4 separate regions of the Homo sapiens genome follow, and all the other regions are linked to region 1. Evidence: fine-mapped expression QTL. A gene starts in region 1. Each other region holds a variant in brackets. All regions are shown on one strand. Distances are between the middles of the regions.

Region 1 (8,102 bases):
TGGAAGAGTTTGTCCTAGTATATAGTAAGAAGATAGAGTAGTATATCTTGGCTCGTATAGTGCTTCTGTGGTTAAAGGGGCAAATGCCCCCAAGCGTTTTCATGAAAGTAACACTTCTGCTGCAGACCAGTCATGCCAACTCAGCTATGGCCACCTTCTGTGATTCCAACGCTTTTGTCCATTAAGGCTTGACCTCAGCACCCACTTAAAAAAAATGTGACCTAAGGAGAAAAGTGACTGATAACTGCCAACTCCTACCCTAAGTTCACATACACATAAGGGTATGCAAATGGGCTTTGGATATGGTTTGCGAATGATACAGCAGAGCACATTTCATCTCTTAATAATCACTTTTATGCCACTGAGGAAATTTTGAATGCTTGTAAAATTTAGTAATTTTTCTGCCTCTCCTACTTACAGCAACACAAAAAGAAAAGAACATCAGGGAAACCTCACCATACAAAGGCAGAAGGGAAGGGATCAACAATGAGGCTCTAACACCCTTCCTTTAACATCAAGCAGCATGCCACCTGGTCCCCATAACCCTGCACCACGGTCCATGCCATACTGGACCATAGTAGAGGAAGTACTACTTAGCATGAAGGGAAAACAATGCTAACTTCTAAAGCTTGAATTTCATAAAAGATAAAGGAACTATAGCAAAACTACCTTTTTGTAACAGAATCTTAAAAGCCAACTGTATTTCACAGTGATTACCTCTGGGAAGTGAGAAGAGGGATGGACTGGGGGCTTTTTCCTTTGTGCTTTCCATCTTTCCATACTGCTCAAATTTCTAATCATGGACATATATTAATCATTTTGTCTTTAAAAAAAATGCTGGTAAAAGGCTGGGCACAGTGGCTCACACCTGTAATCTCAGCACTTTGGGAGTCCGAGGTAGGAGGACAGTTTGAAGCAAGGAGTTCAAGACCAGCCTGGGCAACATAGTGAGACCCTGTTTTTAAAAAAAAAAAAAAAAAAAAAAAAAAAGCCAGGTGTGATGTCACATGCCTATAGTCCCAGCTACTTGGGAGGCTGAGGCTGGAGGATTGCTGAGCCCAGGAGTTGGAGGCTGCAGTGAGCTATGACTGTGCCACTACACTGTAGCCTGGATGACAGAGCAAGACTCCATCTAAAGAAAAAAAACAAAAAATGCTGGTGAAAAATGTGATCAACAGAACAATTTCATTCTTTTAAAACCAGCTGTGAGTAAGCTATTCACCTATATAAAGTTTTTCAAAAGTACTATGTATTCTGGGGGAATTTAACAGATGTTAAATAAGAGCAGACACCTACCTGAAGAACAACTACACTGCTCTTTATTTAAATATCTAATACAGGAAACGGTATTTTTTTCAAAAGAAAATTATATTTTGACAGGCATCAAGAAAAGCAGCAGGACCTTCCTAACACTGTACTGTTCGAGCCCCTCTTCTCTGCCCTAAGAGACCAAATCCCATGACATTCTTATGCACACCTAACCTTAGATCCACAATCATGTTTACATTTCTAAGGGGCATGTATCTCATATATTTGTGTCCCGTTTGAGTTACATGAGACAAGAATGTTAATCCCTCCACAGAGTGCTGCATGTTGCCTATATATTCTAAACAACATGAACAAGGACACCCAGGAGACCTCAAATTAACCAGATGACTCTAATAATTGGAAAGACCAATGGCAGGCCATTTTCTCCCCACAGAGTGTTATTCTGGCCTGCAAAATGCTCAAAGAGCACATGTGTTCCACAAGGAGTGAGGAGGTACAAGGGTGATGGATGAAAAACAATGTCGGAGCAGGACAGTGGACAAGCTCAAGGACTGGTCAGTAAACGTGACGTAACTGCACACTCCCGGAATGTAAAAATAAGTCCGCCTAAGCCTCTCACAGCAAGTTAGCATAATAATTATACATTTGATCAGGATGCCTGGCTGTTTCTTAGGCTAATAATTTATTACGTGGACTTTGCAGTGACCAAAAGACCTAGGGGCAGACCAAACATCAACAGCAGTCAATGATTTCATTCACGCCCCTCTGCTGCAGCTCCTTGCCAGTAGGCTCGCGCCTTTTCAACCTAACGAGATGGAGAAGGCAGCTGCCCAAACGTCACCAAACACAGGCATGAAAGTGAAGGAGAAATGGGAAAGACTGGACCCACGTAGGAAGGAACACAGTGTTTCTATGTGTGAAAGAGGTGGGTTAGGATACTTCAGCGATAGATGGGCCTGTATAGAAAGAGAGAGGCCTGCTTAGGATCAAGAGAGGAACACCATCACATACTCAACTCTCGCTTGAGCTTGGTGTTGTGCTATGGATCTGGCCACAGCAAACTAAATTAATGTGGCTCCTGATTTCCCTAGAGAAAGGACAGAGAAAAAAAAAACAATGTGTAAATCTGTTAAGTGATGTGGAAACACAGAGTGGAAGCAGCCTGTGGAAACAATCTACTTTTGCCTAGTGAAGTCCCAGATCTATACCCTGCGAGCGGCAATCCCACCCCTCCATATGAATACAACCTAAAGAAACTTCTGCACAAGAGCACTAGGAGTCCTGGGGGGAAATGTGTGCATTACTGTGGGTGTTAAACAGGAAACAACCTACATATTCAAGAGAATTACGGTATATTCATTCACACAACAGAATACTACCCATCATGAAAATATTTAAACTATGGCTACCATACCACATGGATGATTCTCACAAACCTAATGCTGATTTAAAAAAAAATAAAAAAACCAATCAAGTCACAGAACACATACAGGATGACACCATGTACACAAACTTCAAGAACATTCAGAACTATAAAATATATAGAGATGCATTATGTAGTAAAACTAATTTTTTTCTAACAAGGGAAATGATAAACACAATTCAAAATAGTGTTTACCTTTGTAGAAGGAAGAGGGGAGACAGTCAGGAAGGGGCACCCTGAGAGCTTCAACAGAAGCGATAATGCTCTGTTCCTTAAGCTGAGCGAAACAGAAAGATGTACTCTCATCATTCCTATCTGGGATATATATATAAAACAATATTATCCAGAATAAAGGTGGGGAAAGGAAGACAGTCGAGGGGGGAGCCCAGCAATCCTCTCTAACTCTGACTTACACATCCGTCTGCCTAACCAACAGTGAGGAGACAGCCCAAGACTTCAAGGCAACAGAATCAACTCAGCTACAAGGTGACAAAAAAGAACACCTCCAGGCACTTCTCTGGGCTTTCTGGGTGAAACCAGCTCCACACACCGTCTTATTCAAGTGGCAAACTGTAAGACACAGCACCCTGTCCCCAGAGTTGGAGACAGACTGCCTTGCCAATACAAAAACAGAAAATATTCCCAAACTCAGGCCTATTTTGCCAATGGAAGGAAAGTCCCCAGATGGTTCCAACAGACAGAGAGCAATGGATTGAATTTAGGAACAAGGCAGTAATTTCATACAGCCCTGCAGAGCTGGGAGATTCTGGGACCAGTTTTAGTGGGGGAGGGGAGGTAAAAATACACTTGAGGACACATTAAATAGGGCCCCAAAACTAAGAGCCTAGCGCTTGGGACAGAACGTGTGTAATATGAAGTTCAAATGAACATGTGTGCCGAAGGCTAATGAGAAGCCCCTAGGGTGATTATATGAGCTTTACCTGCAAGAGGTGACAATCGAGTTTGGCACATGCTGAGTCTATTGGGAAATAATAATATCAAGAGATCTATACCACATCCATGTATGTACAGCTCCCGGCGCCGGCGAGGCAGGAGAGTGACTTACTCAGGGAAACTGACTGCCAGGAAGGCCGGATTCGGTCAGCCCAATCGGAGAAAGCCCGGGGCCGAGGCCAGAAGGTCCCTCGGGGAGGACAGAAGGGTGGTCCCGGCCCCAGGCAGAAGGTGGGGCTGCCAGGAGAGGGCGGGTCCCCGTGGCAGGAGTCCCGGGAGGCCTGGCTGGAGCCAGGCCGGGCCGCGGGACAGTCGGGGAGATGGAGGGCGGGGACCCCATGGGCGCTGGGGCGGGGAGGGCTGGGCCCCGGCGGCCACCCCGCTCCCCCGGCGCCCCGCCGCACCCTCCCGCGCTCACCTAGGCACGCAGCTGGACGAGCTCCGGTCCACCTCCCAGGTGGCGTACAGGTTCATCTGCACCGGGGCGGGGGTGCGGCCTGGCCCCGGGCCACCGGGAGGCGCGGAGCCCGAGGCCACCGCCACGGCCATGGAGGTGGAGGTAGACGAGGACGAGGAGGAGGCAGCCGCCGCCGAGGTGGACGAGGACGACGAGGTGGCCTGGGCCAGCTTGGGGGGCGTCGGCTGCTGCGGCGGCTGCTGCTGCTGCTGCTGCGGCGGCGGCTGCTGAGGGGACTGGGCGACCCCGGATCCCCGCTGGCCGCTGCCGCCCCCGGCGCCTCCGGGACCACCGCCCGCCCCTCCGCGTTCCGCCATGGCCCGGCTAGGCGGGGGTTACGGAGGCCGAGGCGACGCCGATCTGGCTCCCAGGCTTCCCCCGCGGCGGCGGCGGCGGGGGCGCGGCAGCCTCCTCAGCCCGCCTGCCCGAGCGCGAGCAGCCAGCGAGCTGCACGCACGCGCGGGGCCTCTGGGCGCGCGGGCCTCGCGCTCGACCGCCGCTGCCTGTTGCGGCTCGCGAGGCCGACACGGGTGGGCGTGTCCGGGAGGGGGCGGGGAGCCCGGCCCGCGCGGCCCCACCCAGCGCGGAGGGGCCGGGCCGGGCGCGCTCGCGCCCTGCGTGCAGCCACGCGCGCCCCTCGCTCCCGCGGAGTAGAAGGGGTGGTCTGTGGCCAGCGCGCGCCCACGGGTCCTGCCCTCAAATCCGCTGCCAGTCTGCCCCCGCTCCTCCCCTCCCCGCCCACGGCCGGCCGCGGCCCCGCCAGCGGAAACCCGGCTTTTCCGGGATTCGGTCCCTGCAGGGAGGGGGCCGCCGCGGGAGCGCGCCTCGGCCCCTCGGGTCTTCGGAGCCAATGCGGAACCCGCCCCCAGCGGTGGGGGTCTGCCCGGGGAAGCCGGCTCTCCGCCTGCCGACCTAGCCCTGCCCTGCGGCCCCGGCAAACAGAGAGGTCGGCGGAGACCCGGGGCCCGCTGCCACCGCGGGTGCCTGTGATCCGGGAAGTTCCCGCCCCGAGGGCAAGCGGGGGCTCAGGGACCTGGAGTCCAGAAGGTTCTTCGCATAAGTGAATTCTCAAGCTACCCCGGGGCCCATCTGGAGCCAACCTTCCTCTTCTTTCCCTACCCCCCAAATGCCTCTTTAGAGTGCCAGTGCTTTGTTGCTTACCAAATTTCTAAAATTCCATTCCTCCTAAGGCCTAGCTCAGCTGCCACGTCCTATCTGGATCATGCCCCCCACAACCCCGAGACCATCTTGAACCCTCCGGCAAGTGAGCGCCTCCACTGGTGCACTTAAACACCAACAGTAGTACAACAGCAGCGCATGACTACCCTCCCCACAGGCTGGCAAATGCCCATGGGAGCCAGTGATCCAGCCTGCTCTAGTCTGTCAGAAAGGCTGCTCAGGACCAGATTACAACCTGGAGAAAGTAAGTCCCCCCATCCCACATACAAATCCCAAACCCCAGCGACTAGTGTTGCTTGAACCCAAGGGTTCATATGGACTCAAGACAATTTAGCTTTTGAGCTATGTTGTCGCACAGGTAAGGACTTGAACTTCTGGTCACAAGGTCAGTTGGGAAGGCCTGCCCTGGCCTACTTCCCAAGCCCACTGTTACTTCCTCTGCCGCGCTAGGGCGCTAATCTGGCTATTTTTACTCCCCAAGGACAAAGTAGTAAGGTCAAACCAGACCTAGAGGTACTTCCCCCAAGCCTTCCTACAAAGCAGGGCAGTGGTGAAACACAGATTTCAGCCTGGGGTTGGCGTCACCACCAGTCAAATGCGCCGTCTAATCCCAGTTTATGTTCGTGGTTACTGGGGCAGCCCAGTGATTGTAGAAAGAGACTATTTTAGTCCTTTTGCAAGAAGGGGCTAAAAGGAGATGAGGGAGGCTCAGGAGTGTTAAATATTCATCTCTTTCCTTGGGAAACAGCTTTATTTACAAAACAGGTCTAAAATAAGAACATGAAATGACAAGTCCTTGGGAACTGCGGGAGAGGTGGTTCTTGTGTGAAGCCCAGGCATCCAGACGTAGGGCCAAAAAAAGGGCTAGTGTGAGGGGACCTAAAACTTGAACTCCTTATATTTCTTGCTGCCCCCACGGCTGTCCTGGGGCTGAGCTTTCCGTTTTTTTTGCTGTATAGGGAGAAAGAGACACAGGTTAAGACAGGTTGAACCACCCCCGGACCCCCAAAACAAGGGTGGGCAGCCTGACATAGACATAGAAGTCTGTGGGAAAGGCGCTGAATCTGAATTCTCTTCGAGCTCCCTCTCAGACTTGGCTGAGTTCCTCCCCCTCATCGTCCTTAAAGAGGGCAGCCCACTGGAGGATTTCTAAGACTTCCAAATCTAAGGAAGCACAGAGCAGCAAGCAGAGGCCACCCTCACTCTCACCACTAGAGGGCACCATGCCACTGAAAACGGCAGGCCAGGGTCCCTGGCTCTCACCCAGCCCAGCGCCCCTGGAAGCGCCTACCTTCTGTTTGGCAGCGTGCTCAGCCACCATGTCACTGAAGTCCTCCTTCTCTACTTGAGCCTGCTGCTCCCGCACATGCTCCTCATACTTCTGGGTCATGGCCATAGGATCCAGCTCCAACTCTTCAGGCGCCAGCGCCACTTCCACACCTTGCAGCTCAGGAGCCGGGCCCTTCCGGCTCATAACCTGGAAAGGAGATCAGGGCCTGGTCATCTCCAAAGAGTCAGAGAAGCCCTAGCTTCTGCTGCCTTTCTCAGCCTCCAAAAGCAGTATCCTCCAAGTACTCACCGTGGACATGTCATAAATGTGGGTTGATCCCATCATGGCCCCTCCAACAGTGGCTGTTCTCTTCTCTGGCAACACAGTGAAGAGCTGAGGTGTCTCACTTCTGCGAAGGACAATGGGATCAGGCCCAAAAAGCAAGGGACAAAAGGGTCTCCAGAAGCGGAAACAAAAGATACAGGTGGCACCTCCACTCAGCGCCTTGGAGAGCTTCTGAGCTCCCCAAGGATGCAGCCTCTGCAGTTCTGCCCATGACAGAAAAGAATTGGGCGGGGGGGTGGCACAGTGCTGACTCCAGGGAACACAGATGGAGCTAAGGGGCCCCCTGAATCAAGTCAAGGGATCACAGACCAGGACTCCCACATGCACATAAGGGTCAAAAGGTCAGAGAGGCTCAAAGTTTCCAAAAGAACTTTGGTACAGAGAAGCTGGCAAGATAGAGCAGGCGACAACAGTTCCCACCCGAAGAATGTCATGCCTGGAGTTCTCATGTATGTAATTCACACTTCCAGGCCTTCCAACGCAAGAGCCATCCACAGCCAGTTTCACCACTAATTTCAAGGATTACACTAGGAACAAGAGCAAATCTACCACTATCACCCCAGACTATGCCCATCATCTCCACCTCTCCCGCTGGAAGAGGTGACAATCTATTGTCCACACAGGAGCCAGAGAAAATACCTTAAAACGGATGTCGGGTCCTGTCAGACCTTTGCTCAAAACCCTCTGAGGCTTCTGATCATTATCTGAATAAAATCCAAACTCCTTACCATGACCTAAAGGGTTCATAGCCTGGTCCCTTACCCAAGCCCTCCTCACTATACTCTGTCCACAGTACCCTTCTTTATTTTTCTTCCTTGAATATGCAAAGCTTGAGACTTCTGCTTCCTGACAAGGAGCAAGAGGAACCAGATACACCCTCCTGCCTGAAACAACCAAAAAAAATGGGCAAAATATATGAAACAGTGGTTTTCAAGACACTACACATGGGGCAACAAAGCACAGTGATTCCTGCGAGACAGGAAACAAATGTGATGAGCCCTTCAACTGCCCCAGCATACCACACCTGAGAGTTTGCAGGCCACAGAACAGAGGGGAGACTCATGGAGAGCCCTGAGGACTCCGTGAGTTGGGAGGATGAAACTGAAAGTCCAGGGAGATCAAGGCAGCTAGAGTTCACAGGATAGAGTACTGGAGAAAAGAGCAGAGAGAGAACTCGAGACCTACAGAAGGTCCTCAAGTATGCA
Region 2 (8,086 bases), 46 kb after region 1:
CTCAGGGTAGAGTCTTCTCTTTTTCTTTCTTTCTTTCTTTTTTTTTTTTGAGATGGAGTTTCGCTCTTGTTGGAATGGTGTGATCTCAGCTCACTGCAACCTCCGCCTCCTGGGCTCAAGCAATTCTCATGCCTCAGCCTCCCAAGTTCCCAAGCAGCTGGGACTACAGGCGCACACCACCACATCCAGCTAATTTTTTGTATTTTAGTAGAGACAGGGTTTCACCATGTTGCCCAGGCTGGTCTCAAACTCCTGAGCTCAGGCGATCCACCCGCCTTGGCCTCCCAAAGTGCTGGGATTACAGGTGTGAGCCACCATGCCCAGCCCACACAAATTGTTTCTTTGTCTGCTGCTGGCAACAGATAGTGAGCTCCTTAAAACAGGAGCCGTGTCTCTTTCATCACTGGGAACCCAGCAGCCACTATGGACATGGCTCTGACCAAGCACTCAAGAAGCTGAGACCCATAAGCTTCCAGAAGAGCTGCGCTGTGCACATATGAATTCAGCATACAGGGCAAGCTCTGCAGTGGATTCCAGGAGGAAGACAGGACAGCATGAAGGTTACAGATACAGACTTGGAGTGAGATAGCACTGACGGTAAGTTTTCATTCATCAAGCAACTCATTTATATTCTCTGAGCCATAGCACCTTTGTCTGTCAAATGGGGATAAACAATATCTACCATGTGGGGCTATTGTGAGGATTAAATTTAATGTGTATGGGCCGGGCACGGTGGCGCATGCCTGTAATCCCAGCACTTTGGGTTGTCGAGGCGGGCAGATCGTTTGAGATCAGGAGTTCGAGACCAGCCTGACCAACAGGGTGAAACCCCATCTCTACTAAAATACAAAAGAAGTTAGCTGGGCGTAGTGGTGCACGCCTGTACTTTCAGCTACTTGGGAGACTGAGGCAGGAGAATTGCTTGAATTCAGGAGGTGGAGGTTGCTGTGAGCTGAGACCATGCCACTGCACTCCACCCTAGGTGACAGAGCAAGACTGTGTCTCAAAAAAAAAAAAAGAAAGAAAGAAAACAAAATGTGTATGAAGCAATCCTCAATAAATGATGGCTGATAGTTTAATTTTGGTAATAACCCTAAAGGGGGGTTCCAAGATCAAGAAGAGAATAATAATGCCAATTAACATGTATTGGCCAGGCATGGTGGCTCACACCTGAAATCCCAGCACTTAGGGAGTGCGAGGTGGGTGGATCATTTGAGGTCAGGAGTTCAAGAGCAGCCTCGTCAACATGGTGAAACCCCGTCTCTACTAAAAATACAAAAATTAGCTGGGTGTGGTGTGCACCTGTAGTCGCAGCTACTAGGAAAGCTGAGGCAGGAGAATTGCCTGAACCCAGGAGGCAGAGATTGCAGTGAGCCAAGATTGCACCCCGGCACTCCAGCCTAGTGACAGAGTAAGACTCTGTCTCAAAAAAAAAAAAAAAAAAATTAGCCGGGGTGGGGTATGGTGGTGGGTGGCTGTAATCCCAGCTACTCAGGGGGCTAAGGCAGGAGGCTCACTTGAACCTGGGAGGCAGAGATTGCCATGAGTGGAGATCATGCCGCTGCACTCCAGCCTGGGTGACAGTGAGACTGTCTCAAAAAACAAAAACAAAAACAAAAAAACATGGGCTGGGCGCAGTGGCTCACACCTGTAATCCCAACACTTTGGAAGGGCAAGGCAGGCGGATCACGAGGTCAGGAGATCAAGACCATTCTGGCTAACATGGTGAAACCCCGTCTCTACTAAAAATAGAAAAAGTTAGCCGGGCGTGGTGGTGGGCGCCTGTAGTCCCAGCTACTTGGGAGGCTGAGGCAGGAAAATGGCATGAAGCTGGGAGGTGGAGGTTGCAGTGAGTCAAGATCGTGCCACTGCACTCCAGCCTGGGCGACAGAGCGAGACTCCATCTCAAAAACAAACAAAGAAACAAACAACAACAACAACAACAAAAACCATGTATTATGCTGTTAATATAAGGCTTACATATCTTAACTTTTTTGATCCTGTGGGCTAGGTATTATTATTCCCATTTTACAGAGGAAGAAACTGAGGCACGGGAAAGTTCAGCAACAAGCCCAAGGTCACACACCTACTTATGAGGGAGTCAGGCAGTCTTCACCCCAGAGCCAGCTGATCTCTAGATGGGACTGAAGACTGGACCACTTGGACCATTTTCTTTCCAACAACAGGGCTAAAGTAGCTGATGAAGCCATGGCGCCCCCATGGACTTCTTTGTCCAGCTTTGCCAGTGACCTGTGAGGTCACCTTGGTCTAGTCCTTCCCTTTTCTTGACCTCGGTTTCCTCATTTACAATGAAGGAGTTTGACACAATAATTCTTGATTCCGAACTATAGCCCAGGAAGAGGCATTTGGGAATGAGGCCCTGGCCTGCTGGTGACATCATAGAGGGGAGAGTTCCACGAGAATAGTCAGGCCTTTCTGGAAGCCCAGTGCCACAGTCTGCATTGAGCTTGGCTCAGGAAAGAAGGGAAATCCAGGCGGGGCCTGTTGGGCCCAGGTCTTGAGCTCTTTTGGCTCCAGAGTTCCCAGCACAGTCATGGATCAAAACTCAGTGCCTGAAAAGGCTCAGAATGAGGCAGACACCAATAACGCAGATAGGTTCTTTCGCTCTCACTCATCACCCCCACACCACAGGCCAGGCCACAGCAGAGCTCTCCACCATTACGAGTTGCACCATCACGGCGTGCCCCACCAACGTGGTGAATCTCACCACCCTCCGGAGTTCCAAGACTTCCACGACCAAGCCTTGTCCTCCCATGTCCACCAATCTCACCACCACAGCGAGGCACGGAATCACGGCAGAGCCCATGGCCCCACAGGCTTTGGTCTGGCTCCCTCTCAAGGCGCCGTCCCCTCCCACCGTTCCTACGGTGAGGACTACCATGATGAGCTCCAACGTGATGGCAGGAGGCATCATGATGGGTCCCAATACGGTGGGTTCCATCAGCAGAGTGACTCCCATTACCATAGGGGGTCTCACCATGGCAGACCCCAATATCTCGGTGAGAATTTATCCCACTATTCCTCTGGCGTGCCCCACCACGGTGAGGCTTCCCACCATGGTGGGTCCTACCTCCCCCATGGACCCAATCCCTACAGTGAGTCCTTCCACCACAGCGAGGCTTCCCACCTTAGCGGGCTCCAACACGATGAGTCCCAGCATCACCAAGTCCCCCACCGTGGCTGGCCCCACCATCACCAAGTCCACCACCATGGCAGGTCCCGTCATCATGAAGCCCACCAGCATGGAAAGTCTCCTCATCACGGAGAGACCATTTCCCCTCATTCCTCTGTGGGGTCCTACCAGCGTGGGATATCTGACTATCACAGCGAGTACCACCAAGGTGATCACCACCCCAGTGAGTACCACCATGGCGACCATCCCCACCACACACAGCACCACTACCACCAGACCCACCGGCACCGAGACTACCATCAGCACCAAGACCACCACGGCGCGTATCATTCCAGTTACCTCCATGGCGACTACGTCCAGAGCACTTCCCAACTCTCTATCCCACACACATCCCGGAGCCTGATTCACGATGCCCCCGGCCCTGCTGCTTCTCGTACAGGAGTCTTCCCCTATCACGTAGCACACCCACGGGGCTCGGCTCACAGCATGACTCGGTCCTCCAGCACAATCCGCTCACGTGTCACCCAGATGTCCAAAAAAGTCCATACCCAGGATATCTCCACCAAACATTCAGAAGACTGGGGCAAAGAAGAAGGGCAATTTCAGAAACGCAAAAGTGAGTCTTTGCTGGGCCCCCCATGCCAACTCCTGCTGCCTGGCGCAGGATCCAGACCTGATCTCGGC[C/A]CCGCACTGTCCTTCCGCAGATCGTAAGGCCCGACCCTCCTGCACAGGTCCCCCACTGGCTATTCACTCTCCTGACTGTTCATGGTCCCATCTTTTATTCCTTGAATTATGTACCTCTTTAGGCCATGAGGTGTTTGTTCATTCAGTCACTGCCTTATTTATTCATATGTCTACCAGTCAAACATTGATACTCATCCAATGTGGGTGTGTGGCCTGCCTGGGCCATGGCAGCATGGGGAAAAATTCAACACAGTCGCTGCCCTCGAGGGGCCCAAAACTAGGAGTGGTCACTTAGCTGACCACAGATCATCCTGTGCTCGGGGCCTGCCCTCAGAACATTTACCATGGTGGATTCTATCTGTCCAGATTTCTCCCACTCACCTGTGAGCTGCTTGAGAACAGAGATTAGGAACTAATGCCTGAATGAGGGCCTTATTGGAGGGCAAGGAGGGACCATGGCCTTTAGCTCATACGCCACCAAACTTTCTTCCTAGTAGTTCAATAAACATGACAACAGGCCAGGCGCGGTGACTCACGCCTGTAATCTCAGCACTTTGGGAGGCCGAGGTGGGTGGATCGCTTGAGGTCAGGAGTTCAAGACCAGCCTGGCCAACATGGCGAGATCCCGTCTTTACCAAAAAAATACAAAAATTAGCTGGGCGTGGTGGTGCACCCCTGTAATCCCAGCTACTTGGGAGGCTGAGGCAGGAGAATCGCTTGAACCCAGGAGGCAGAGGTTGCAGTGAGCCGAGATCGTGCCACTGCACTCCGGCCGGGGTGACAGTGCAAGACTCCGTAGGAAAAAAAAAAAAAAAAAAAAAAAACAAATAGGCTGGGTGCGATGGCTCACATCTGTAATCCTAACATTTTGGGAGTCCAAGGTAGGTAGATTGCTTGAGGTCAGGAGTTGGAGACCAGCCTGGCCAATATGGCAAAACCCTGTCTCTACCAAAAAAATACAAAAATTAGCCGGGTGTGGTGGTGCGTGCCTGTAATCCTGGCTACACAGGAGGGTGAGGCAGGAGAATCTCTTGAAGCTGGGAGGCGGAGGTTGTAGTGAGCCGAGATCACGATACTGCACTCCAGCCTGGGCAACAGAGCGAGACTCCATCTCAGAAAACAACAACAACAACAAACAAAATATGACAACAGTCTCAGGAACAAGCAGAGAGGGGCAAGTGTGTTATTAAATGGGGACAGGAAAGGCAGCCCAGAGGAGGGAACATTTCATCAGGACCTGAAAGGGAGAGGATAAGTTTACCAAGAGGATGGGATGATGAGGAGGGTGGGTTTTCCATATGTAAGTTGCCACGTGAGCAAAGAAAGGCATGGAGGCATAGGAGTGGGAGCCCTCAGGATCCCCAGAAGCCAACTCCAAATCCCCAACAGGCTGGCCCCTGCCACAGAAGGCACAGGACCAGCCTGTTGGGGATTTGCTGGCCAGGCTGGTCTCAAACTCCTGGCCTCCAGTGATCCGCCTGCCTCAACCTCCCAAAGTGCTGGGATTACAGGTGTGAGCCATTGCTTCTGGCCACAATTATGCCCATTTTAAAGACAACAAAACTGAGACATAGAGCAGTAGTGAAGTCGCGCAGCTGCTTACCCAGAGCTGGAGAGAGCCTGGGAATCCGGGCTTGTGTGAGGCTCATGCTGAGGAGAGAGAGGGCACTGGGTGCTGGGGACAGCCCTGAGCGCACCCCTGTGTCCCTGCAGAGTGGTACTTCATGGCCTTGGACTCCATATTCTTCTGCATCTACGTGGTGGAAGCCCTGGAGGCCAGGAGTTCGAGACCAGCCTGGCCAACATGTTGAAACCCTGTTTCTACCAAAAATACAAAAATTAGCCGGGCGTGGTGGCAGGCACCTGCAGTCCCAGCTACTTGGGAGGCTGAGGCACAAGAGTTGCTTGAACCCGGGAGGCAGAGGGCCAGCAAGCAGGCAGGAGTGACCATGGACGCTGAGCCAGGCTGGGGGGTGCCTGGGACCTCGTGTCCCCTCTTGCACACACTTGACTTTCTGGCCCTGTTCCTTTCAGCCGGCCGGCTCCAGCGGACCCGCAAGAAGGGACACTCTACCAATCTCTTCCAGTGGCTGTGGGAAAAGCTAACCTTCCTCATTCAGGGCTTCCGGGAAATGATCCGGAACCTGACCCAATCCTTGGCCTTTGAAACTTTCATCTTCTTCGTTGTCTGCCTCAACACCGTCATGCTGGTGGCCCAGACCTTCGCTGAAGTCGAGATCCGGGGCGGTAAGAGCCAGGGAGTCCTGTTCCCATGGAGAAGCCACCGATGCTCTTCCAGGACCTCCGTGGGCCTGATCCAGTGCCGGGCGGTTTATAGGACTCAGCTCACTTGATCCTCACCCCTGGGAAGTAGATGGCCTTACCCAGTATTAGAGAGCGTCTCAGAAAGACCCCGCTGAGGCCGGCCCGAGACAGAAGGACCCGCTAGGCGGGAGGCGGTGCTGTTCGCGCCGCAGCCACTAGGGAGCGCATCTGCTCCAAATGTGCGGCTGAGGGCGGGCGGGCGCCTGGAGCCCGAGCTTCGCGGAAGGGCCGGGAGCCCGAGAAGGCCCTGGAGGGGCGAGGATGTAAGGTCGGGGAAGGCTGGGCCCTCCAACGCCGTGGAGCAGGGTGAAGGACAGGAGCTGCCCGGCTCGCTGTCTCAGGCTCCATTCTAAGCACTTCGCTTGTGTTCATGCATTTAACGCTCACAACTCTATCAAGTGGACTTCAATTATCCCCATTTTATTTTATTTTATTTTAGACGGAGTCTGGCTCTGTCACCCAGGCTGGAGTGCAGTGGCGCGATCTCACTGCAACCTCCGCCTCCCGGGTTCAAGTGATTCTCCTGCCTCAGCCTCCCAAGTAGCTGGGACTACAGGTGCCCACCACCATGCCCAGCTAATTTTTGTATTTTTGGTAGAAACAGGGTTTCACCATGTTGGCCAGGCTGGTCTCGAACTCCTGACCTCCAGTGATGCGCCCGCCTCAACCTCCCAATGTGCTGGGATTACAGGTGTGAGCCACTGCTCCTGGACACAATTATCCCCATTTTAAAGACAAGAAAACTGAGACACAGCAGTAGTGAAGTCGCGCAGCTGCTTACGCAGAGCCGGGGAGAGCCTGGGAATCTGGGCTTGTGTGAGGCTAATGCTGAGGAGAGAGAGGGCACTGGGTGCTGGGGACAGCTCTGAGTGCACCCCTGTGTTCCTGCAGAGTGGTACTTCATGGCCTTGGACTCCATATTCTTCTGCATCTACGTGGTGGAAGCCCTGCTCAAGATCATCGCCCTGGGCCTCTCGTACTTCTTTGACTTCTGGAACAATTTGGGTGGGTGCGGCCGGGGCCAGGCTGCGTGTGTTTAGTCTGGGGGAGGCTCGGGACGAGAGAAGGATGGGGAAGGGGGCGCTGGCGTTGGGAGCCCGCCAGGCTCAGGCACCCCGTGCCCTCAGACTTCTTCATTATGGCCATGGCCGTGCTGGACTTCTTGCTGATGCAGACCCACTCCTTCGCCATCTACCACCAAAGCCTCTTCCGGATCCTCAAGGTCTTCAAGAGCCTGCGGGCCCTGAGGGCAATCCGGGTCCTGCGGAGGCTCAGGTCAGTGGCCACGGCTCCCACCTGGGGTGGGGACTCCAAAGGAAGAGGGGACACAGACCAGGGCCCCAAAGAAATCCACTGTGACCTGCTCAAGGGATGGGGGCGCAGGAGGCTGCTGACCCCAGCCTGCTTCTGCCTTCTGTCATGCACTGGAATCAGCCCCTTCATTTTTCCAGAGAGGGGCCAGGACTCACCCAAGTCACCAACAAGTCAGGAGCCTCCTGCCTTCAGCGCCAGCTGTGGCTGCTGGGCAGAGACACACACCCCCGCCCCTCACCGATGACTCAGTCCCCACTCCTTCTGCCCACAGCTTCCTGACCAGCGTCCAGGAAGTGACAGGGACCCTGGGCCAGTCCTTGCCGTCCATCGCAGCCATCCTCATCCTCATGTTTACCTGCCTCTGTATCCTGGTGCTGCAGGGGCTGGGGTGGGGGCCTGAGGGGCTGCGGTGAAAGGGGTGCGGGGAGCAGGGATGGGGCAGGACGAGGGGCGCTGGGGTGGGGATAGCACTGGAGAGCTGAGTTTGGCCCTGAACAGCCAGTCCTCTTCTCCGCGGTCCTCCGGGCACTGTTCCGCAAATCTGACCCCAAGCGCTTCCAGAACATCTTCACCACCATCTTCACCCTCTTCACCTTGCTCACGCTGGAT
Region 3 (8,102 bases), 150 kb before region 1:
GGGTAAGGATTTCAGGAGAAAGAGAGTGCAGGACATTCATAAGCCTGCAGATTTAGGTGAAATTTCTATGGTGGTCCTGAGGGTCCTTCTGCCGTTATTTCTAAAGGGACAAACACTATTTGAAACAGCTGAAACAGGAAACTGACCCATACATACCAGAGTGTCTGTTTCAGTCAAGCTGTCATCTTGGTTTTTAATCCAAGTAGATTTAATTTTTTCTAGAGCAGCCAATTCCATCTGCAAAAATTATAAGAATTAGTTATCACTGATCCAAATAACTACCACTTTAATTTGTTTTACTAGGTCCCTATGAAGCTTAAAATACTTTCATTTAATCTCAAACCTCATAAAATCTTCAGGGCTTTTTTCTTATGTGGGCCGGGGAGGCGGGTACATTTCTGTGAAAACCAGGTTTTGGAGGGATCAGTTATCTTTGTCATCAAGTCAATAACACGGAGATTCAGAACCCAGAAATTCTGACTCCACGAGGTGTCACTAGGCAAGAGAAGCTCAAAATTTAGATGGCTTTGCTATTGCATCCATGAAGTCTTTGACCCTGGATCCAGTGAATACACTTGCCCAGGAAGGACATAGAGGGGAGGCCTCCTTTGCTTGCCAGAGAAAGGAGTATGCTAGGTTCAGGTCTTTGATTTTGAGACTAAAGACATCCATGGTAGCCAAATGCTTTTTGCTTGGTGGGAACATCCAGAAAACCCTCTAACAGGATATACTAAGCAGAAAGACACCCAATGTTAAGCCATTTAGGTGTAAATTAATTCTCCATTTGTCCCCAACTCTTATTAGCATTTCTCATAAATATTAAAAATTTCCTTTGCAAATATAGACACATAACCAGATTTTCGTATTTGTTAATATTGCTTCTTGCTGTGCAGACAGCAACTCAAAGTCACCAGCAGTGACGTGTGGGTTGTAGGTCTTAGATGCAGGGAAGGTACTGGCTTTAGTGAATCTTTTTGTTTCTTGTAGGGAACCATAGGAGGCAGAAAAATATAAATGATATCCCACTTCCTCCCAATGACTCAAAGTCCTTTCTCTGAGTCAATCATATAATACTGAGAAGCATCAGGCTAGTAAGTTCAGGGTCACCTAGTAAACTATGGAACAAGGATCACCACAGCAGGCTCCCTATGTCACACTCTAAACCAGGGTTCCTCCACCTTGGCACGATTGACATTTGGGGCTGGCTCATTCTTATTGTGGGGGCCTGTCCTGTGTACTGTGGGATGTCTGGCAGCATCCCTGGCCTCTACTCACTAGGTGCTGGTAGTGGCAACTCTCCACTCCCTCATTTGTGACAAACAAAAATGTCTCCAATCATTGCCATATGTCTGGGAGGCAAAATCATCCCCAGTTGAGAACCCCTGCTCCAGGCCATTTGCAGGACTAACTCAGCATGCCTGAGCCAGACTCTGGGACCCCAGATCTTCAGATGGTTTGGCTTGTGTAATGGCTCACAGCCACAGAACAGGTTGCTTCCAGATTGCAGAGCTAGCTCATTTACACCTTCTCTATATGATCAGCCAATGTTGTTGTTGCTGTTGTTTTTTTGAGACTGAATCTCACTCTATTGCCCAGGCTGGGGTGTAGTGGTGCAATCTTGGCTCACTGCAACCTCTGCCTCCCGGGTTCAAGTGATTTTCCTGCCTCAGCTTCCTGATTAGCTAGGATTACAAGCGTCTGCCACCATGCCTGCCTAATTTTTGTATTTTTGGTAGAGACAGCTTTTACCATGTTGATTGACCAGGCTGGTCTTGAACTCCTGACCTCAAGTGATCCACCTGCCTCAGCCTCCCAAAGTGCTGGGATTACAGGTGTGAGCCACCACGCCCAGCCTCGGCCAACATTAATAGAATCTAGAATCATGGAAAAGCTCTGGTTAGACCTGAGACTAGAGATAATTTCACTCCATTTTCGATCTCAATATGACAAATTAATTAAACGCGTTTTAAAGAGAATGAACTGGGTGATAACACAGGTCTGCTGGGAGGTTTTGAAGTAGCACGCCTTGTTGTTAAGCCCTATGACAGCTACAGCATTGCTTCCATGTCAAAGCTGCAACATTTATTAAGATCTTTATTCCTCCCAGCTTTATTAAGCTATAATTGACAAATAAAAATTGTATATATTTACAGTATACAACATGTTTTGATGTATGGATACACTGTGAAATGATTAAATCAAGGTAATTAGCATATCCATCTCCTGATAATATCTTTAACTTGGATTGGGCTTAGAGGACACCTGCTGGCTATTTACTGGCTCTTCCAGATGTCCCAGACAATCCTCCTGGGGACAAATTCCCAATTTCATCACATTTCTGTTCCTGCTTCTATAAACACTAAAGGGCTTTTTCCCCCAAAAGATGTTGGAACACCAGCAGGACTCCAGCTGTGTCTGACCAAGTGTTTGGCATGGGATATGGATGAGGTATCACTAGAGGTCCCAGAAGTCTGCACCACTGTGCTCATGGACAATGTCAGCTGCTGAAGGGTAAGAGTGTAGGCCCGTGTCAGAGAGAAGGGGGCAAGAGTGGGTAATGTGTAGGCTATCATTTCATGAAGGACTAGGCTCTAATGCCATTATTTATAGTGCTGTGGAAATAGCGACTTAGCAGCAGGCAGTCCTGGCTGGAAGTCTGCATCTGTGGCTGCCCTGACGCACTGTCAGGGCTCATTGTTATCAGCTTGGAGAACCAAATTATGTTGCCATTGTGTGCTCAAGCCTTGGGAAAATTCAACAACTGGAATAATTCGTATCAGGAGAAATTCTTTCTGGTTCTAGCGATAAACTGAATCCTCTAAAATGTGGGGAACAAAAAGCAAGATTAAGAAAAATAAATAAATAACAGTGCTAGGAAACCAGGGAAGAGAGGACACAAGTTGAGGTGGTGCGTGCACACCTGCCTACAGGTGCACAATCTCGTGGTTTTTCCTAATCCATTCAGAAGTTCTCCATTTAAGAGCGCAGTCTGGTTCTGCTGTTCCCAAAGCGCCTTTCATACCAAAGGATTCCAAAGTTTCACACCCACATCCAGACATATGGGGCTCTTCAAAATAGAAATATCAGCACAGAACCAGCAAAGTGAGTCTGAAACGTGGCCAAGGGAACCAGAATTTGAAGGACTCACTAAAAAGACATCTAGATTCTATCAATTTTAGGAGTCCACAACTGAAATGGCACTAAGGAATTATAATAATAAAAGCAATAGTAGTCGGTGAGCAATGAGCAGTGCTCTGTGTGCAGTAAGTCAATCAGGCACACCCCACGCAGCAGTCTGATGTGCATGATCCTGTTCCATCTCCTCACTACCTTGGGAGGCACGAGCTTTAACACGTACCTTGTAGATGAGGAAGCAAAGGCGTGGTAACATGCCCAAGATCACACAGTCAGTGGAGTGGTGGAGTCAAGACTCAAACTCAGAAGCTCTACCCTGTCCCAAATGTGTTTTTGCCCTGACAGAGGCCCTTAGGCCATCATATTATAAAGGCTGACACTCACCTGGCTTTTTTTTT[TTTTTTTTTTTTG/G]AGATGGAGTCTTGCTCTGTTACCCAGGCTGGAGTGCAGTGGCGGGATCTTGGCTCAATGCAACCTCTGCTTCCCAGGTTCAAGCAATTCTCTGCCTCAGCCACGCGAGTAGCTGGGATTACAGGTGTGCATCACCATGCCTGGCTAATTTTGTATTTTTAGTAGAAACAGGGTTTTGCCATGTTGGCCAGGCTGGTCTCGAACTCCTGACCTCAAGTGGTCCACCCACCTCGGCCTCCCAAAGTGCTGGGATTACAGGTTTGAGCCACCGTGTCCGCCCTCAACTGGCTTTTGAGCCAAATGGGCTCCTATACCGACACCACAACCCTACAGATGAGGCACCGAGGCTCAGAGTGTCTAAGTAATTTTTTCTGTAAGTTTTATAAGTCAGGTAACTAACATTTATTGAACATCCACAGTGTTAGGTGTTCTGCTTACTGCTTTTGGGGCACTGTCTCAGTTAGTGATTTAGTTACATTTTGTTATATTAGGGCACTTGCTCTACATTCCTAGAACACTAAGAAAGAGTCCTCCCTCAGCCAGCTCCCAGGTATCTTTCTAGAGTCATCCCATATAGTTAAGAGGGAATTTAGCTCTCATGGCCAGGGGTAGGGTTTGCCCAGTAGGGTTTGCCCATGTGGATGCTGTCAATTCAGCAGGGCCATTCAGCAGTTCCATGTGAGGAAATGCATCTCCAAGCCACATCCTAAACACTAATACCAAAGAAAGTGAGGTGGCTGGGTACACACTGCACTCCAGCCTGGGGAGTACAGCGAGACCCTATCTCAAAAAAAAAAAAATAGGCCGGGCACAGCGGCTCAAGCCTCTAATCCCAGCACTTTGGGAAGCTGAGGCGGGCGGATCACCTGAGGTCAGGAGTTTGAGACCAGCCTGGCCAACATGGAGAAACCCCATCTCTACTAAAAATACAAAAATTAGCCGGGTGTGGGTGGCACGTGCCTGCAGTCCCAGCTACTCGGGAGGCTGAGGCAGGAGAATCGCTGGCACCCGGGAGGTGAAAGTTGCAGTGAGCCGAGATCGCTCCATTGCACTCCTGCCTGGGCGATAAGAGCAAAACTCCGACTCCAATAAAAATAAAAAATAAATTTAGAAAGAGTTTTTTTTTTTTTTTTTTTTTTTTGTAAATCGAGGTCTCCTCAGTTCTTGGATCCCCATGAACCCGGCCTGGAACGGCGTCTAGGGTGCAGGGTCTGCAGGGGCAGGGCTGGGGTTTCTCCCAGGGAGGAGTCTGTTTGGGCTGCAGTTTCCCATGCATTGCCTCACTAACGTCACGTGGGGCGCTGTCCTAAGCAGGAAGAACGGTGAGCTGGGAGAGAGCCCCACCTGGTGGCAACAGGCAGAAGGGCAGCCAGGGGATGCCCCAAGAGAAGGTGGTTTCCAGGACAGGCACCTGCCCTTTCAGACCCGTGCTTTTCAGCGGTAGAGGCCTCTCCTGTTTCCTATCATCTCCGCACAATTACTACCGATCTGCAGGGCGAGTTTGGTATTCCCCCTGGTGAACCATGAGTAGGCTTCATCTGCCAGTAAAGCAGGTGAACAGGAGGACTTAAAGGATTTGTTTCTTTGATCTACAGAAAAGACACTGGGCTTTGGAGGGCAAATCCTAAGCTGGGCACTCACATCGCGACAACACTCACTTGCCTTCCATTGTAAACGAAGGAAGAGCAGCTTCCTAGGGCCTGAGGTCACTTCAGGCTCACACCCACCCCTGCCTGTGATCTGCTGAGGGAGCAGGGCCTTTCTAGGAGGGGCGGAGCAAGGCCCAGGTCGTGGCTCCGGCTGCTACAGTACATGCCCCCTTTTCCCCTTGCTCACCAGAAAAAATGGAAACCTCTTGACTAAATTATAAATTTTCTCGGGGCACTGCTCCCCTCTATGGATTCTTGGCCCAATAAAGCCTACTAGGGCCTCCTGAGCACGTCTCAGTGGCTCCCCTCCTCTCCATACCTGCTCCTTCCCCAGTCTGGTGCAGGGCCACTCACTACTGGCCAAACGCCCACTCCATGCCACACTCTCAGCTACCACAGAACAGACACGAAGGGAGAGGTTTTTGTTTGTTGAGATAAGGTCTTGTTCTGTCACCTAGGCTGGAGAGCAGTGGTGCGATCACAGCTCACTGCAGCTTCTGCCTCCTGGGCTCAAGGGATCCTCCTGCCTCAGCCTCCCAAGTAGCTGGGTCTACAGACGTGCACCACCATGCCTGGCTAACTTTTGCATTTTTCGTAGAGATGGGCTTTCACCATGTTGCTCAGGCTGGTTTCGAACTCCTAGGCTCAAGTGATCCACCCGCCCTGGCCTCCCAAAGAGCTGGGATTATAGACATGAGTCACCACGCCCAGCAGAGGGGGAGATTGTATGTATTCTGAGAGGGAAGGCGCTGGGCCATGGCAGAAACAGACCAAAAGGAACAACCCAGCCTGACACAGCAATGACCCCAAAGAGCTAAGCTCCCAGCCAGACTGAGGGGAGGAAAACTGAGGCTGAAACAAGATGAGGCCATTTTCTTTTTTCTTTTCTTTTTTTTTTTTTTTTGAGGGAATCTCGCTCTGTCGCCAGGCTGGAGTGCAGTGGCTCAATCTTGGCTCACTGCAACCTCCGCCTCCCGGCTTCAAGTGATTCTCCTGCCTCATCCTCCTGAGTAGCTGGGACTACAGGTGCACACCATCACGCCCAGGTAATTTTTGTATTTTTAGTAGAGATGGGGTGTCACCATGTTGGCCAGAATGCTCTCAATCTCTTGACCTCATGATCTGCCCGACTCCACCTCCCAAAGTGCCAGGATTACAGTTGTGATCCACCATGCCCAGCCAATGGGGCCACTTTTCTAAGGTCACAACATGAGCCCTGATCAGAGATGCAGAGGGCCAGAGCGTCGAGCCCTGACATGCCACGGTCCCACCCCGCCCCGCAGTCGCGGTTGCGCTCACAGGGCTGGTGGTGTCTTTTCCGAGGCTGCCTTTGCTGTTGAGGCTGCCAATCTCCGTCTGGGAGCTGGACTGCGACATCCCCTCAAAGAAAGGCCTGTGGTGAAGAGCACAGCCAGGGTCAGTGCTGCCAGGGCTCAGAACAGCATGCTGGGAGAGTTGAATGGAGCTGGCATTCAGGGTGGGTCAACAAGCTACAGGTGTCCAGAACGCCCGGTGAGCAGGGAAGTGCAGGGTGAAGAGGAGGGGCGGGTCAGGAGAGGGGGTACTTCCTGAGAGTCCTATAGGACTTCTGTCAGTGAGAGGCAAAACAGTGACCTTCTCCAAGACAGCCAGAGGTTCAGAAAGGATGAAGGACCAAGATTCTCTGGTAATAGAGGGGACAGCGAGGGAGGGGTCAGGAGACTGCTATGGCCAGGAAGGAGAGTCTGGAGGCCAGCTACAGAGAGGGGGGCTCACTTGAGCTTGGGCTTTGGCGTGCTGAGGATGCTTTCTGTCTCCTCCATCTCAGGGCCACTGTCGCTGGGGTTGTACATCTCCAGACTGTCATACAATTCATCCAAGTCCTCTTCCACTTCCCGGATCTGCTCGCGGGACACATGCTCCAGCCCAAAGCCCACCTGCAGGGAAAAAGGAGTCTCTGAATTTAGGGTCATCCCTATTAACAATTTTGGTTGATGAGCAGCTCCTTTCTCCTGGGCTGCCCTTATAGTCCTGCTTAAGGGACATGCCAGAGCTTCACACTGGCTGGAGTAACCTTCACGTCATTTCCATGATCCAGCCTGAGGGCGGGGACATGGTGAGGCCACCTTCCCCCCAGTTCCTGCCACCGCTCCACACTGTGAAGCTGTGCCAGGAGGGACAGCTGAGGAATCCCGAGGCCCATCGCCCATGTGGGTTCTTCCTACCCTCCTTACAGCTCACAGGAAGGCGAAGCAATCGCTCTCAACAATTTTCATCTTTATCCCTCTGTTAGCCCACTGAGAGGCCTGTGGAAACGGGCCCCTCCCGGAGCCCAGGGAAAAGACTGCTTCTCTCTCAGCAGCCCCATTCCTGGTTATTCCAGGGCTGACCAACAAGGACATTTCCACCTCACAAGCTGCTGCTCACTGATGTTCCCGTGGGATAAGAGGGGAAATTAAGTGACAACCGCAGCAGCATCCGCTGGGTCTGTCCCTGTATCGCATGCCAGAGGCTTGCGCATCACCAAGGGTCGGGCGTAGCTGTGCTGCCCTGCGTTGTGTGCATAGCCTCTCTCTCCTCTGCTTGCTTAAGTCCTTCTTAGCCACCCTCTCCCTTAGGGCTCTACCAGGTATGCCACGGGGAGCAGGAATATTAATCCTAGAATCCTGACTCTCAGTGGCAATACAGAGTGTACTCCAGGGATGCTGGGTGAAACCCGGGGAATTCTACTCACCATTAACCTTGGGAGTAAGAGGCCATACCTCATCTGAAACTTTAAACCGCTTCAGGAGGGCCACAAACTTCTGTTTGATGTTAGGTTGCTGTAGGGACAAATCGCATGACAGTTCTCAGCAACGTCCACTTGGGGTCAATTCAAGTCAATAAACACCCACCAGAGCCCACTTTCATGACGAGCTGTGGGAAGACA
Region 4 (8,102 bases), 79 kb before region 1:
TCACTGCAAGCTCCGTCTCCCGGGTTCACGCCATTCTCCTGCCTCAGCCCCCAGAGTAGCTGGGACTACAGGTGCCCACCACCATGCCGGGCAATTTTTTTGTATTTTTGGTAGAGACGGGGTTTCACCGTGTTAGCCAGGATGGTCTCGATCTCCCAATTTCGTGATCCGCCCACCTGAGCCTCCCAAAGTGCTGGGATTACAGGCGTGAGCCACCGCGCCTGGCCAGGTTTTTTATTTTTTAGGTAGAGAAAAGGTCTCACCATGTTGCCCAAGCTGGCCTCAAACTTCTGGGCTCAAGCAATCCTCCCACCTTGGCCTCCCAAAGGGCTGAGATTACAGGTGTGAGCCACTGTGACCAACCTATATGTACATTATAAACCCAGCACTAGAGTGTTATAAAATCTTTAAAATCTTGTTTCTTATGTCACCAGCAGGCACAGTGGCACATGCCTGTAGTCTCTGCTACTCAGGAGGCTGAAGCAGGATGATAGCTTGAGCCCAGGAGTTCAAGGCTATAGTGCACCATAATTGTCCTTGTGAATAGCCAACACACTCAAGCCTGGGCAACATAGTGAGACCCCCATCTCAAAAAAAAACACATATGTATCTTAAAGAAATTAGAGAAGGAAAAAAATCATAGTCTTTTATATTTACCTACATATTTACTATTTCCAATGCCCTTTATTTCTTCCTGTAGATGAGTTACCACCTGGTATCATTTCCCTTCATTCTGAAAACTTCTTTTAGTGGAAGTCTGCTGGTGATGAATTCTCTCAATTTTTGTTTTTCTGAAAATGTCTTTAGCCCTCATTTTTGAAAATGTGTTTCTCTGGATACTGGATTCTTGGTTGACAGGGTTTTTCTCTCAGTATTTGACTATACTGTTCCAGTGTCTTCTGGCCTCCTTCATTTCTGATGAAAAGTCAGTCACATTTGTAACACTGATCCCTTTTATGTAATGTGTCACTTTTCTCTACCTGCTTCCCCTCCCCATGCAAGTTCAGAGACGTAATGTGCTGATGTTGTAACAAGGTTCAGAGGGTGGCACACCTCACACACATGCATGAACACCCAATCGTCACACTCATGAGCTGCAAAAGGATCTCTATCTGCTTTTAAGATTTTCTTTTTATCTTTGGTTTCAGCAATTTGACTATGATATGCCTATGAGTGCTTTTCCTTTGTGCTCAGACTCCACTGAACTTCTTGAATCTATAGTGTTTTCTACCATATTTAAGAAGTTTGGGGATATTATTTCTTCAAATATTGTTTTTTGCCTATTTTTCTCTTCCCTTTCTAAGACTCCAAGTACACTTATGTTAGGCTACCTGATATCGTCCTACAAGTCTCTGAGGCTCTACTCACTTTTCTTCAATCTTTGCTCCTCTCTTCATTGGATGGGATAATTTCTATTGATCTATCTTCAACGGCACAGATTCTTTTCTCTGTCATTTCAAAACTGCTGTTGAGCACATCTAGTGAACTTTTTTTTTCTTTTGAGACATGTTGTCAGCCAGGCTGGAGTGCAGTGGCACGATCACAGCTCACTGCAGCCTCGATCTCTTGGGCTCAAACGATCCTCCCACCTCAGCCTCCCAAGTAGCTGGCACTACAGGCACATACCATCATGCCTGGCTCATTTTAAAATTGCTTTGTAGAGGTGGGGTCTCACTATGTTGCCCGGGCTGGTCTCAAACTCCTGAGCTCAAGTGATCCTGCTGCCTTGACCTCCCAAAGTTGTGGGATTATAGGTGTAAGCCACTGCACCCGGCCTCCAGTGAGTTTTTATTTCAGCTATTACTTATTTGAGCTCTACAACTTCCATTTTTTCACTTTCCATTTCTTTGTTACAATTTCTCTATCTGTTCACTTATTTTTCCTTTAATTCTTTGATCATAGCACAGTGGCTTTGCAGTCTGCCTGCAAAATCCAACACTGTACCCACTTAGATGCTCAGAGTCAGTCTCTACTGACTGCTTTTCTTCCTGAGTATGAGTTAGACTTTCCATTTTATTTACATGTCTAGTAATTGTAGATTGAAAACTTGGCATTGTAGATAAGATGTTATAGCAACTCTGGATTCTACTGTGTTCTTCTGAGAACTTTCTCTTTTTATATTCTAGTAGGCAGTTAACTTGCCTGGATTCAAACTGCGAACTGTCTCTCCTGTCGTATGAAGCAGCTGCTATCTCTGCTCAGCTCTTACAACGTCTAGCCTAGCTCCCTGGGGTCTCCCATGCTTCTGTGTAATCTGGCAGACAGCCAGGGATTTAGGCTGATCATACTCAGATTTAGGGGCTCACACTCTGTGACTTTTGTGTTCTTGTGATTTCCTCCTAAGTTTTCAGCTGCTTGGGCAATATTAGGGTCTTTCCTCTGAACCCCAAGCCAGTAAGGCTTCAGCTTTCCACTGCTTCGCTGCTCACAGTTTAGGGATATACTGTTTTAAAAAGCATGAACCTCACAGATCTCATCTAGTATAGGTCTGTCTTTTAAGGGTAGATTCCTCTCTAGCCTCTGCCTGCTTGCTTTGTTTCATTGGTTGGCTGGTTTTTATTTTTGTTTTTGTCTTGCTGGGCTCCCTGGGATTTCACTATACATTTAGAGTTTAATAGTCAACCAGGAATTTGGGCAGTTTTCACTCAGATGTGGGGCCTCCCCCTTTCTGTAGTCCTCTCTTGTTTCCAGGATTCCCCCCTGAACTTTCCAGCTTGTCTTCCATCCCTGACTTCTCTTCTTTGGCACCTCTCATCTGTAAGGCTGCAGCTTTCCACTATCATTTCTTTCTACTGAAACCACCATGGGTACTGATGCATAACCTCTGGCAAAAAAGTCACAAACTTGCAATTCTTGCTCCTTCTATTATAGTGTTTCAGGAGTCAATTCTCCTCAGGTTCTAGGGACAGCTTTTGGATGCTTTTAGTTGTTTCTTATATTTTACCCAGATCTTTCAATTGTTATCTGTAGGAGGGTTTATGCAACCACTTCAATCTCCCTTAATGGAAATTTCCTCTAATCCAACAGAAAGTAATTTACTTTTTGGATTTTTAAATATAACACCTTACTTTTAAAGGCATAGTGCTATAAACAAAACATTTAAAAGTAACACGTTTTCAAGTAATGAACAATAACACTTCAGTGGCAAAGTCCTAATTGTCTTTAGAAATTTATTAGATCAAATATTCCAAATGTTGCATGTGATAAAGTCATATAGCAAAGGTAGAAAGGCTTAAAATGTTTCTTTTTTTTTTCTATTTTAGTGAAAAGGAAACAACATAAAAGAAAAAGAATAGCTCAGTTAGATATAGGAATTCTGTTCCTAGAAATAGAATCTGTTTCCTGCCTAGAAGTCAGCAAAACCCAGTCTGTTCTACATTTAGTAACTGGAGAAGATGGGAAAAGCTAGAGCTCTTTGTTTCGGTTTTGTTTTGGTTTTGTTAGTCTCAATGGTTATTTTTGGGAGAAAGAGAAAGAACGTATGTCAGTGGATCAAATAACTGTATATAGATTACTGTATTGGATTCCAATTGCTGTAGAGAATAATTACTATTTTATATGTCTTTAATAAAGTATAAATATTCACAGATGGTCTGTTATGTGCAAAGCACTATATGATAGGAATAGAGAGAGGGGATGTGGGGGAGAAATTGAACAAATATGAATAAGATCAGTTTTGGCCGAGCGTGGTGGCTCAAGCCTGTAATCCCAGCACTTTGGGAGGC[C/T]GAGACGGGTGGATCGCCTGAGGTGGCAAGTTCGAGACCAGCCTGACTAACATGGAGAAACCCCATCTCTACTAAAAATACAAAATTAGCCAGGTGTGGTGGTGCATGCCTGTAATCCCAGCTACTCAGGAGGCTGAGGCAGGAGAATTGCTTGAACCTGGGAGGCAGAGGTTGCAGTGAGCCGAGATCATGCCACTGCACTCCAGTCTGGGCAACAAGAGCGAAACTCCGTCTCAAAAAAAAGATCAGTTTTGCCCCCCAAAGATCTTATAATGTACTGAACAGACATGTAAAACACACACACACACACACACACACACACGAACACAAGATGTGGAATGGATGTAGAAAGTGCTGTTTATAGACCGGGTACTTGATTTCATCTCACAATTTCAAATACAAAGTTAATGTTATGCTATGAGCTACTTTTTAAAATGTGTATGTTTATAAAATATTTGTTTTTAAAGTAATAGTTTGAAAAGTAGAAAAAGTAGAAACACACAGTAGGAAAAAAACCTCTTATTTTGGAAATATATAATAAAGTGGAACAATCCTATAAATCGCCAGAGAAGATCACTATTAAAAGGCTGAAGAAAAAAAAGTGCGTGTTGGCTGGGGATGGTGGCTCACACCTGTAATCCCAGCACTTTGGGAGGCCGAGGCAGGCGCATCACCTGAGGTCAGGGGTTCGAGACCAGCCTGACCAACGTGGTGAAAACCTGTCTCTACTAAAAATACAAAAATTAGTCATGTGTGGTGGCGCACGCCTGTAATCCCAGCTACTCGGGAGGCTGAGGCAGACTTGCTTGAATCCAGGAGGCAGAGGTTGCAATGAGCCAAGATCACACCATTACACTCCAGAATGGGTGACAGAGGGAGACTCTATCTCAAAAAAAAAAAAAAAAAAAAAAGTGCGTGTGCATGTGCACATGCTCACACATACCTTTGAGCATATACTTCTGTGCTGCTCAATCTCTTTTCGACCAAATGCATCACATTTAGCAGCTGTTAAGTGGACACCTTTCCATGTTAAAACATATATAGTGACTTCATTCTTTTTTGTTTTGTTTTGTTTTGAGATGGAGCCTCACTCTGTCACCTGGGCTGAAGTGCAGTGGTGCAATCTCGGCTCACTGCAACCTCCACCTCCCTGGTTCAAGCAATTCTCACACCTCAGCCTCCCAAGTAGCTGGGATAACAGATGCACGCCAACATGCCCAGCTAATTTTTGTATTTTTAGTAGAGAAGGGGTTTCACCATGTTGGCCAGGCTGGTCTTGAACTCCTGACCTCAAGTGATCCGCCCTCCTTGGCCTCCCAAAGTGCTGAGATTACAGGCGTGAGCCACCGCACCCGGCCTGACTTCATTCCTTTTAATGGTTATAATAGTTAGTCAAAATAAATATACTACTTACTTAATCAGTCCCTTTCTGATGGGCATTTGACTTTTTTATAGTTCTTAGTTATTACAAAGTTATTGTAGTGTTTCTATGATATGTGTTCTTAAAACTGAAAGTGCTAAGTCAAAAGGACTAAACATTTAAATTTTTAATGGCAGGCCAGGCATGGTGCTCACACCTGTAATGCCAGCACTCTGGGAGGCCGAGGCAAGAGGATCATTTGAGGCCTGGAGTGTGAGTACAGCCTCACGAGACACCCATCTCTATAAAAAATACAAAAATTAGCCAGGCATGCTGGTGTGTGCCTGTAGTCCCAGCTACCTGGGAAGCTAAGCTGAGAGGATCACTTGAGCCCAGGAGGTCAAGGCTGCAGTAAGCTGTGATCACACCACTGCACTCTAGCCTGGGCAATAGAGTGAGACTCTGTCTCAAAAAATAATAATAATAATTAATTTTTAAAAAGTACATTTTTAATGGCTACTGCCCAACTAGCTTTCAAAAGGATTATGCCAATTACACTCAACAAACTACAAGAGAGTCTCAGGTATTTTTTTTTCCTTATGTCTTTTGTTATTATGGCCGTATATTTCATTTCTAAATTTTAAAAATTTATTTTTAATTTTTGTGGGTATATAGAAGGTGTATATATTTATAGGTTATTTGAGATGCTTTGATATAGGCATGCAATACCTAATAATCACATCAGGGTAAATGGGGTATCCATCATCTTAAGCATTTATCATTTGTGTCACAGACAATAATTAGTTATTTTTATATCACAATTATTTCTGATTACAGTCACACTGTTGTGCTAGCAAATACTAGCTCTTATTCATTCTTTCTTTTTGTACCAATTAACTAACCCACTTCCCTCCCACTACCCCCTAACCTTCCCAGCCTCCAGGAATCACCCCTTTACTCTCTATTCTACATGTTTTAACTCCATAATACATTGTTATTATTTTTGCTTTTTACTGTCAATTACCATTTAGAAAAATTACAACATTAGAAAATTTCTTATGTTTACCTACATACTTACTATTTTTAGCATTCTTTATTCCTTTAAATTGACTCAAGTTTCCATTGTTATCATTTTCCTCTTACCAGGAGAATGTTCTTTACTACTTTAAGCCTCAGCTATTTTTATATATTATCTTACATTTACCCAAATATTTGGCAATTTTGGTGTTCTTCCTTTAGTCTTGTGGATCTAAATTACTGTCCATTGGTAGAATTTTCCTCTCAGTCAAAAAAACTTCTTTCAGGTAGATCTCGTAGCAAGCAATTCCTAGTCTTTGTTTATCTAGGAATGTCTTTATTTTGCCTTCATTTTTGAAGAATACTTTTGCTAGATATAAAAATTTTGTTTTGTTTCGTTTTTTCTTTCAGTACTTTGAATATGTCATTCCATTGCCTTCTACCCTACACTGTTTCTGCTGAGAAGTCAGCAAACATTCATACTGTTACAATAAAAAACTTGAGGAGTTATCTTTTTCTTGCTGCTTTCAAGACATTCTTATTCTTTTTGTCTTTGTCTGTTTTTAGACAGTGTCTTACTTGGTCGCCCAAGCTGGAGTGCAGTGGCAGGCATGATGTCGGCTCACTGCAAGCTCCACTTTCCAGGTTCAAGCGATTCTCCTGCCTCAGCCTCCTGAGTAGCTGGGATTACAGGCATGTGCCATCATGCCTAGCTAATTTTTGTATTTTTTAGTAGAGACGGGGGTTTCACCATGTTGGCCAGGCTGGTCTCGAACTCCTGACCTCAAGTGATCTGCCCACCTCAGCCTCCCAAAGTGCTGGGGTGCTGGGGTTACAGGCGTGAGCCACTACACCCAGCCTCTTTTTGTCTTTGCCTGTCAATTATTTGACCAGGATATGCCTAGGTGTGGATCCCTTAATATTTATCCGATTTGAAGTTTTCATAGATTCATGATTTTCATCAAATGTAGGAAGTTTCTGGCTGTTACTTCATACATTTTTTTTCTGCCCTTTCTTCTCCTTTCCTTGTAGGAGTCTGTGACATGTGTGTTGGTATGCCTGATGTTGTCCCACAGATCTCTGAGGCTCTGTTCATTTTTTTCTCTCAGGTTCTTCAGATTGGCAGTTTCTATTGATCTATCTTTAAGTTCACTGATTCTTTCTTCTGTGTCTCAAATCTGCTGTTGAATTCCTGTAGTGAATTTTTAATTTTAGTTACTGTATTTTTCATCTCCAGAATTTGCATTTGGTTCTTTTTTACAGTTTCTGTTTTATTGAGATTTATTGAGTCACTGTCATCATACATTTCTTTAAATATTTAAACATGACATGCATAGTTTCCTGTATTTCCTGAACACATGTATAATAGCTGTGTTGAAGTCTTTGTTTACTAAACCTAACATCTAGGCTCTCTCAGAGACAGTTTCTATTGACTGATTATCTTCCCTGAATATGAACCACCCTTTCCTGTTTTTTTTGTCCCATTAGTGTTTGTTTTTCTGTTTGTTTTCTGTAGCCATTCCTTACAGACATAACCATAATAAATTACAGACATAATCATAATTTTAAAAAACTAGATGTTTTAGATAATATATTGTAGCAACTCTCAACTGTAATTTTTCACGTGTGTTATTTCTTTAGTAATTTGCCCTGACTAAATCTACAAAATCTGTCTCCCCTGTGATGTGTGGCTATTTGATGTCTCTACTCAGTTTCTTTTCTTCTTTTTTCCAGTTTTTCTTTTCAAATTCTTGTTTTTATTTTTAAGCCTGACTTGCTGACACACAGCTTAGTGATCAGGCAATGATTGGTTACAGGTTGTGTTTGCATCTCTTGAGCCTACTAGGCTTCCAACCTCTGCCCATGGGTCTGTGCAGGGTTAGGGAGCAAAAGTTCAAGCAGTTTTCAGGTCTATCCCACTTTTCCTTTCGGATCAGCCCTGTCACATTTCCTTCATACGTTCATGCAGATTCCCAGCCAACCAGGGACAAATGGGTACC

Evidence for each region. PIP is the estimated chance that this variant, and not a neighbour inherited with it, causes the effect.
Region 2: its variant is fine-mapped to the expression of PACS1 in whole blood (TOPMed, PIP 0.95).
Region 3: its variant is fine-mapped to the expression of PACS1 in whole blood (INTERVAL, PIP above 0.99).
Region 4: its variant is fine-mapped to the expression of PACS1 in lung (TOPMed, PIP 0.98).

What each region holds. Positions count from the first base shown.
Region 1 is chr11:66,066,805-66,074,906 of GRCh38, reverse strand. PACS1 (phosphofurin acidic cluster sorting protein 1) reads right to left here and starts at 4,635. Exons shown (of 24, transcript NM_018026.4): 1 at 4,065-4,635. The coding sequence starts at 4,420. It overlaps SF3B2 (splicing factor 3b subunit 2), which reads right to left. Exons shown (of 22, transcript NM_006842.3): 20 at 6,862-6,961; 21 at 6,574-6,759; 22 at 5,599-6,233. The coding sequence ends at 6,162. RefSeq lists silencers at 3,691-3,895, 3,956-4,105, 4,116-4,245, 4,396-4,445, 4,456-5,075 and 1 more and an enhancer at 6,623-6,782.
Region 2 is chr11:66,020,848-66,028,933 of GRCh38, reverse strand. CATSPER1 (cation channel sperm associated 1) reads left to right here and starts at 2,455. Exons shown (of 12, transcript NM_053054.4): 1 at 2,455-3,770; 2 at 5,873-6,085; 3 at 7,055-7,168; 4 at 7,291-7,438; 5 at 7,749-7,840; 6 at 7,980-8,086. The coding sequence starts at 2,555. RefSeq lists an enhancer at 5,783-6,284. The variant C/A (reference allele first, on the strand shown) is at 3,839.
Region 3 is chr11:66,219,639-66,227,740 of GRCh38, reverse strand. It overlaps PACS1 (phosphofurin acidic cluster sorting protein 1), which reads right to left. Exons shown (of 24, transcript NM_018026.4): 8 at 7,936-7,995; 9 at 6,950-7,110; 10 at 6,494-6,587; 11 at 157-237. Among named protein-coding and RNA genes, the nearest start is that of KLC2, 34 kb to the left of the region's middle. RefSeq lists enhancers at 3,965-4,465, 4,466-4,966, 4,772-5,011, 5,072-5,171. The variant TTTTTTTTTTTTG/G (reference allele first, on the strand shown) is at 3,534.
Region 4 is chr11:66,145,625-66,153,726 of GRCh38, reverse strand. The region is part of intron 1 of PACS1 (phosphofurin acidic cluster sorting protein 1); the gene reads right to left. It overlaps LOC124902833 (small nucleolar RNA U13), which reads right to left and starts at 1,106; the gene lies at 1,002-1,106. The variant C/T (reference allele first, on the strand shown) is at 3,726.